Linked DNA regions of Homo sapiens. The protein of the gene in region 1 purifies or fractionates together with the protein of each later gene. This does not show direct contact. Each region holds a gene or a part of one and is shown in the gene's direction. Other genes may lie near its edges. The genes, in order: POU1F1 and CDC42BPG.

Region 1 (3,814 bases):
TTTCTTTTATTATGAGTGTAAAGTATATTATTTAATATGCTTGACAATCATTTATATTTCCTTTTCTGTGAACTATCTGTTCAGAGCCTTTGCTCATTTTCTACTGAAGTGTTTTTAAAATAAAACAACTATAACAATTGACTTTGGTTAAATTGCATAAAATTGTGTATTTTTTTAATGGATTGAAATAATAGTTCAAACCTCTGCACTTGCAGAATGAACAATAGATAATGTAATAAGAATATTTATTGATGGGCATCATATGCAACCATTTTATACATATAGGTATATAGCCTTAGGTCCTGAAATAATATGTAGCTATTACATGTGATAAGCACAGTAGTAGGAATCTTTGTGAAATTCATTTTCAGTTTTCTATCTATATTACTGTGAATGTTTCAAATTATATGTTATTTCAGCTGTACTCTAAAAATGTTTGCGACAAACAATAAGGATCATTAGTCTGAAGACAGAGGCATTATCAAAAACTATAAAATGGGCTCAGAAGTATACATGAAATGTGTAATCATAGCCTCTTAATAAATATGGTTTTAGGGAAAGTGACATAATTCTTAGTTTTATTTAGTACCCTTCAACAATATCATTGAATCTTTTAGAGTTGAAATAAGAATGTTATGATATATAACCGTATATTTTATGCATTATAGTTAATATATTAAAATTTTTTGAGCATATATTATTTGATAACTAACAATAATGATAAAAAAGCCATAATTTTCAAGTGCCTTATGAAGTGTTTAGGACACACCTAAACACTGGTTAAATATTATGAATGGCAGATGTTTCTATCTGAATTCTTTCAGTGACTAGATAAAAGTAATTTATTAACTAGAAGAAATATGTTTTGAAGTATTGCACAAGTACTTCAAAGTATAATGAATCTTACTAAATAATTCTGATTTGCCAAGAATATATAGTTAAAAAATAGTGTGTAATAGTTGACAAAGATACACAGATTTGTGTGACAATGAACCAAAATTAACATTTCCTGGAAAGTTGGAGCTGATGGTCTTTATTGTCCCTTCACAGGATACACCCAGACAAATGTTGGGGAGGCCCTGGCAGCTGTGCATGGCTCTGAATTCAGTCAAACAACAATCTGCCGATTTGAAAATCTGCAGCTCAGCTTTAAAAATGCATGCAAACTGAAAGCAATATTATCCAAATGGCTGGAGGAAGCTGAGCAAGTAGGAGGTACTAAATTGTGTCTCTGAAGGCTGTGCTGTGTTTTAACCTAAAAATAATGGCTTCAATAAGTAGGATTAATGCTAAAGCAGGAGGTTTGAGGGGTTTTTTTCCGCCTTTTCTCTTTGAGATGAAAAATAAACATTTTGTTATATCACACTAAAACAAACAACAAAAAAGGAAGGGCAATGTAAGTGTGGAAATAAATTTATTGAGGATAGAATAACCTATATAAGGAAAGCTTGTTGGCATCAGCATGAAGGGGTAAAATACTTATTTTTTTACACATCCATTTTTTTCCTCTCTTTTATACTAGAGAAATTATATATGAATCACATTTGTATCCTAATATTAGTGTACACAAAACATTTGCACACACCAGTCTTCCAAGAAAATAATATAAGCAATTGCTAGATATGCAACTTAATGAGCTAAAATTATCTACTCATACAAATGTCAGAGCCTGATAAAGAGTGAGGTTTGAGAGTATTTACAGCAAGCATTCCAACAAAAGTAAAGTGAGGATATTATTTGTAGAAAGTGTCTTTGCAAGGTTAATATTTATTTCTGCGTTGAGATTTTTCTCTAAGGTCTGTAATAGAAAAAGACTGCAAAAATTTAAGACAAAAATGTCTAGCATTTTTATTTTGCATTGTTTTATGAAGAAAATTTGAAATCCAAATCAGATCGTTTTTTATAAAAAGTCTACTTTGTGTTTGTAATTATCTCTCTTTTCCACATTATAGCTTTGTACAATGAAAAAGTGGGAGCAAATGAAAGGAAAAGAAAACGAAGAACAACTATAAGGTATTCTTTATATTAAAAGTTACTAGAGGACAAAACTGGTATTTTATAAATGGAATGAGCATTTGAGTGTAATGCAGGTGTAACATAACATATAAATGTAAGGTGAATTGGGAGGCCAAGGCGGGCCTGAGGTCAGGAGCTCGAGACCAGTCTGGCCAACATGGTGAAACTCTGTTTCTACTAAAAATACAAAATTTAGCCGGGCATGGTGGTGGGTGCCTATAATCCCAGCTACTCAGGAGACTGAGGCAGGAGAATGGCTTGAACCTGGGAGGCGGAGGTTGCAGTGATCCGAGCTTGCGCCACTGCACTCCAGCTTGGGCGACAGAGCGAGACACCGTCTCAAAATAAATAAATAAATAAATAAATAAATAAATAAATAAATAAATAAATAAATAAAAAAAAAATAATAATAATGTAATAACTTAATTTTGAGAAATGGAGAGCTAATAATTTTCAACATTTGATGGAAAATTATGTATTGTTTGATTCAAGAACACTTTTACTCCAAAATTTTGAATACAAACAGAAAGAAAACAATCATTTCTAAGAGACTGGCCATATCTTCTCCCCTTTTAGCTATAACTTATTGCTCTGACAATGTAGTATCCATGGTGTCTATAGTATTTAAAAATGTGACACTAGTAATCAGTGTTTCGGTCTCTTCAAGTTCAACATGACCTCTTGCATTTCAACCCAGAAAGATTGTTCATTGATCTTTTTGTAGTTTCTGTGAGACATGCTTAGCAAATACTAAAAGACAGGTTTTGTTTTGGTTGGTCAGTTGTTTACTAGAGATTTCCTTTATCGTAAACAGCCCTAAATGATTTTGGGGAGATATTTAGAAATGTCTAGGAAAATGTTCATTTTCTTCTCAAGAACTCAGTGCCCTCTGGTGGCACAAAGTGGGAAAAACATAGAAAGTCTGGGTCCCCTACTTAATGCTTTCCGTGACTCTCGTGTAACTCTACCTTACATAAGACAAAATATCTACATATTTAACACATTATACATTTGTCCTTGTTAAAGTGTCCTGCAAGTGTGTTCAGAGTTTTTAAGTTTCCTTTTCATGTTAATATTGAGGAAATTCAACCTACCTTAATTTTGAGCTGCCAAAAACTTCACTAAAAACAACAAAATTTCACCCCCTATGTCCACCCCCCGCCAGCATTGCTGCTAAAGATGCTCTGGAGAGACACTTTGGAGAACAGAATAAACCTTCTTCTCAAGAGATCATGAGGATGGCTGAAGAACTGAATCTGGAGAAAGAAGTAGTAAGAGTTTGGTTTTGCAACCGGAGGCAGAGAGAAAAACGGGTGAAAACAAGTCTGAATCAGAGTTTATTTTCTATTTCTAAGGAACATCTTGAGTGCAGATAAGATTTTTCTATTGTATAATAGCCTTTTTCTCCCGTTTCATTCCTTTCTCTTCCTCAACAAAAACAGAAATTACTTGGTTGACTTAAAATCATTTTATATCAATAGCTTTTACAGAAGCTTTACTTTTCCACTTTTTTTTAAAAAAAAGAAACCAACAATTTAAATTATATTGATGTTATTTACTTAAAATAATTATTCTCAGAAGCCACATTATCTATTTTAAGCCAAATATATTAACAGTAATAAAATGATCTCTCTGTCTCTCCCGCTCTCTTTCTCACACACACGCAGACATATGAGTATGGGTTTATAAGTTCCTTTTCCAAACATGTATATTAGCTTTTTAACATGTAAGTCAGTAATGACACATATGTAAAGCACATCACCAGAAATATCCAATTCAAAAATTAACCAATGTTCTG
Region 2 (4,342 bases), on another chromosome or scaffold:
CTGTAGTCTCAGCTATTCGGGAGGCTGAGGTGGGAGGATCACTTGAACCCAGGAGGTTGAGGCTGTGGTGAGCTACGATTGCACCACTGCACTCCAGCCTAGGGGACAGAGTGAGACCCTGTCTCAAAAAAGAGAAAGAAGTGTTGTCTAGGCCGGGTGTAGTTGCCCATGTCTGTAATCCCAGAACTCCGGGAGGCCAAGGTGGGAGGATTACCTGAGCCCAGGAGTTCGAGACCAGCCTGGTCAACATAACAATAACCCTTGACTCCAAAAAGTAAAATAAAAAATCAGCTGGGTGTGGTGGCATCTGCCTGTAATCCCAGCTACTCAAGAGGCTGAGGCAGGAGCCTAAGAGGTCAAGGCTGCAGTGAGTTATGATTGCATCACTGCACTCCAGCATGGGTGACAGAGAGACCCTGTCTCAAAAAAAAAAAAAAAAAAGTGTTGTCTGAAGCCACCAATATGTCCCACCCTTTGATCTCTCCTCATGGTGCCTGGTCCATCCCAGCTGGACAGAAATCAGAAATACCACTGGACAGAGCCAGCCCCTCCCCTCCCCAACCTCCTCCAGCCTATCTCAGACCTCTCCTTGCCCTTCACGTTCCAGGTCAGACCTCAGGCCCTGCTCCTACTGAAGCTTAAAACGCCTGTGGTGTTGGTACCAGCCCAGCTCCACCTCCACCCCAGGGTCTAACTTAAGAGCCACCTTGTCCTCAGCCCCTCAATTCGCCTTCCTCCTTCCCAAGCCTCAGTGTGTCCATCTGCCAAATGGGCGTGACCATCCCTACCCCAACTTCCTGTCTCCCACATCAACTCTAATGATACAATCAAAGTAAGATTCAGAAACTTTTTTTTGGGCGGGGGCGGGGGGGCGATGGGTGCCAAGCGCGGGCAAACCATGGAGAGAGCGAACTACAATTCCCATCCGGCTCCGGGGCCGCGGGCGTCCCTAGCCCCTCTCTCTTAGCCAAGGGCAAGGCGGCTGCGACCCAGGGGGCGAGAGAAGTTGCAGTGCTCCGCGCCTCCTGGGTCAGGGCCCAGGGAGGGCCCAGGTAAGTCTGGGTCTGGGGCCGCGCGGGGATCTGGGGAGTCTTTCCGACCCCGCAGAACCCCACCGCGCCCCGCGCAGAAGTCAGTTGTTCTCCCCGGCCCGCCCCCGCACTTCCTGGCCGGGAGTTGGGCCCGCCCCCGCGCGCCTCCGCCCCCACCTTCACCTCTAGCCGCGGCTCCCATTGGCCGGCGCGCACCTGCCCGTCCGTCGGGGGGCGGGGCGCGGCGCCCAGGTGAGGGCGCGCTGGCGGCGGCGGAGGAAGGTGACAGCGGGGAGGGCGGGAGAGGGGCGGGGGAGGACGCGCGGACAGAGCCTCAGACGGTTGGGCGGACGGACGGCCCGACAGGCGGGCATGCGGGCGGCCAGACTGTAGCCGAGCAGCGAGGCTCCGGCCGCAGCCATGGAGCGGCGGCTGCGCGCGCTGGAGCAGCTGGCGCGGGGCGAGGCCGGCGGCTGCCCGGGGCTCGACGGCCTCCTAGATCTGCTGCTGGCGCTGCACCACGAGCTCAGCAGCGGCCCCCTACGGCGGGAGCGCAGCGTGGCGCAGTTCCTGAGCTGGGGTGAGTGGCGGGGCGGCACGGAGCGGGGGCGGGCCTAGGGATATCGCGCCGAGACCCCCGCACCCGCAGACTTTCCCGCAGGGACCCGCACCCCCACGGGCTTCCCTCGCAGACTCCCTGCAGTGGCCCTGACGCGTACCACCGGACCCCCGCGGCCCGCACACTCGCCTGCACACCTCACCCTCACTCCAATTCTCACACACGCTCTCTCCCTCTCACAGACCCCGACACATGCACACACATACCAACTTGTGCTCAGGTATCGACCGCAGACGCATGTACCCAGTGCACCGCCTAGAGTCCCTTACAGATTTCCTTGCTTACAGGCCACACCTGACGCAGGACACACACAGACCCTCATGCATGTCACCCACTGATACACGGGCTCTGTTTCTCCTTCCTCTCGGATGCATTGAGACACACAACTCATGGAGAGACCCAGGGAGCGCTGCAGACCACCCCGACCGCATTGGCACTGCAAAACACACAGATCTGTAGGTATCGCACACTTGCAGACCTTCCCCCCACCAACACACACACCCCCAGCTCCCTGGGTACAAGACCACTGCAGCCTGGACTCAGGAACCGATCTCCAACCCTTGGCCTGTGCAGGCTGCTGGCCAAGCTCCTTGGGGGCTGTGGCGCCGGGGCCGGGGAGGGGGGCCTAGCTGGAGATGGGTCTGTACCTTTCCTGGTAGACTCATCTGAGTCATTGGGAGTGGCTGGCCCGGGGTGACCCTGAACCCACTGTGGGCACTGGCGCCAGCTGGAGGGTTCCCTGGTCACACCCTGCCGGGCCATGGGGAAAAGGCACGGGGGCCTGGCCAGGGCGGGGTGAGGCAGGTGTTTGCCCAGTGGGCAACTAGCGTTCCTGGCACTCCTGAGCTCTGGGAAGGCACAAGGCCTGGGGTAGAGGGGGAGGCTGCCACCTAGATGTGCCAGGGAGTTGTCCCCTAGCCCCAACCCTTCCATCCAGGGCGAGGCAGTCAGAGGCCCCTGCCTCTGTGCCTGTCTCCCTGGTATGCCTCCGTGCTATGCCTGTCTGCCTGTGTTGTTGTCACCCCCCCCATGACACCCACACACGTGTGTGTGTTTGCACACACATGTGTGCTCCTCCCTGACTGCCTCCAGCACCTCTGCCTGGGACCCCGGCATGGGGGCCCTCTGTTGACAATCTCCCAAGGTAACTCAAAGGGCTGTGACTCATTCCTCTCCTGCTTGTCTCTACTTGTCCCTGCTCCTGCCCGGAGCCCCCATGCCCTGTGGGAGGCCAGAGGATTAGGCAGCCTGTCCAGGGGCCTGGATCCTCCTGCCTGTGGGCCTGGGCTTCGGCCCTCTTCTGGCGGGTGGGTCCCTATGGTGCTGGCTTCAACTCCCACGGGGAGGCCCGGGGCTGCTCCTCCCCAGCTCCACACACAGACCTGGGAAAGAGACAATGAATTTCTGTAATGAGGTTTCCACCCCGCCCCCGCTGCGGGCTTCTGCCTGATAAACCTGTGGAACAGCTCTCTGTCCCACCCACAGACCCGCCCAGCTGGCAGGGAGTTTACCTCCTGGCAGGGGGAAACTGAGGCAGGGCGCCAGACCACAGCTGCCCCCCATCCTGACTGATCACTCCTGCCTCCCTAAGACCCAATTCCTTCCCAAAACCTGGGGCTAATCCAGGCCTGGAAAGTGCCTGGGAGTGGCTGGAGTTGCCCTTCCTGGAGGTATCTGGGATGTGAGGAAAGAGGACGTTCTTGACCAGACAAAAGCTTCGTCCAGACAGGGAGGCAGGGCTGGGAGTGAGAGAGCCGGTCAGGCCTGGAGGCATCCTGAGCACTCACGCCTTCAGGGGCTAGTGCTAGCACCAGGGAAAGGCATCTTTGTCCTGTTTGTGAGTCTCAGCACCTTGGCAGACTGGCATCCATGCCTCCAGCCTGAGGGGCCCCACGTGGGAAGCATAGAGCCTGTCCTCCCTGCCCTAGGGGCTGCAGGCCTCACCCCCAACCAGGCACCTCTATGCCTACAGGGTCCCGGGACCCAGGCCCACAGCTCCTGAATGGGAGAGAAGCCTCTCTGGGGATAAGGAATGTCACCCGTCCAGTTTCCTAAGACAGGCCCTGGCCTGAACCTGTGAGGGGGCCAAGAACTGTGAGGTGGGGGTAGGAATGGTGTCCCCATGGTCCCCAGGGTGACCTGGCCAAGCAGAGTCAGGCCGCAGACTGGGCAGGACTACAAGTCCCATCAGCCCCTGGGATGGAGGCTGCCTAGAGTCTGGGGCCAGGGGTCCAGGGAGGTCCAGGGACCAGGCGGTCAGCTGAGCCCGGCCTCTGACCTTCCGCACTTCCTGATCATGGCCAAAGGAGCACCAGTTCCTGCCACAACCCCTTGGCCCGAGGCTGTCCCTGGGGAGGTCATCCCTGCCTGGGCTCACAGGAGCGGCAGCTCCTGGCTTGCCCAAGGTGAGAGGGGGAATGGAGCCCTCCCTCCCTGCACTCTGAGTCCCGCCCTGTGTCCCCTCAGCCAGCCCCTTCGTATCAAAGGTGAAAGAACTGCGTCTGCAGAGAGATGACTTTGAGATCTTGAAGGTGATCGGCCGAGGAGCCTTTGGGGAGGTGAGCAAAGGGCCTGGGGTAGGTGGGGGGAGGTGTTCACACCGGGCTGGGCTCACCCCGGTCCTCCCTGTGGCCTTAGGTCACCGTGGTGAGGCAGAGGGACACTGGGCAGATTTTTGCCATGAAAATGCTGC

The links.
Region 2: the proteins of POU1F1 (region 1) and CDC42BPG purify together in Homo sapiens (affinity purification with mass spectrometry; one large-scale study listed by BioGRID and IntAct). This does not show direct contact.

What each region holds. Positions count from the first base shown.
Region 1 is NC_000003.12:87,259,472-87,263,285, reverse strand, and holds part of POU1F1 (pituitary-specific positive transcription factor 1), read left to right. Parts: intron 1-1,050; coding exon 1,051-1,215; intron 1,216-1,952; coding exon 1,953-2,013; intron 2,014-3,181; coding exon 3,182-3,392; 3' UTR 3,393-3,814. UniProt on the Homo sapiens protein: Transcription factor involved in the specification of the lactotrope, somatotrope, and thyrotrope phenotypes in the developing anterior pituitary. Specifically binds to the consensus sequence 5'-TAAAT-3'. Activates growth hormone and prolactin genes.
Region 2 is NC_000011.10:64,841,679-64,846,020, reverse strand, and holds the start of CDC42BPG (serine/threonine-protein kinase MRCK gamma), read left to right. Parts: upstream 1-1,367; 5' UTR 1,368-1,451; coding exon 1,452-1,611; intron 1,612-1,937; exon of another isoform or gene 1,938-2,105; intron 2,106-4,116; coding exon 4,117-4,208; intron 4,209-4,287; coding exon 4,288-4,342. UniProt on the Homo sapiens protein: May act as a downstream effector of CDC42 in cytoskeletal reorganization. Contributes to the actomyosin contractility required for cell invasion, through the regulation of MYPT1 and thus MLC2 phosphorylation.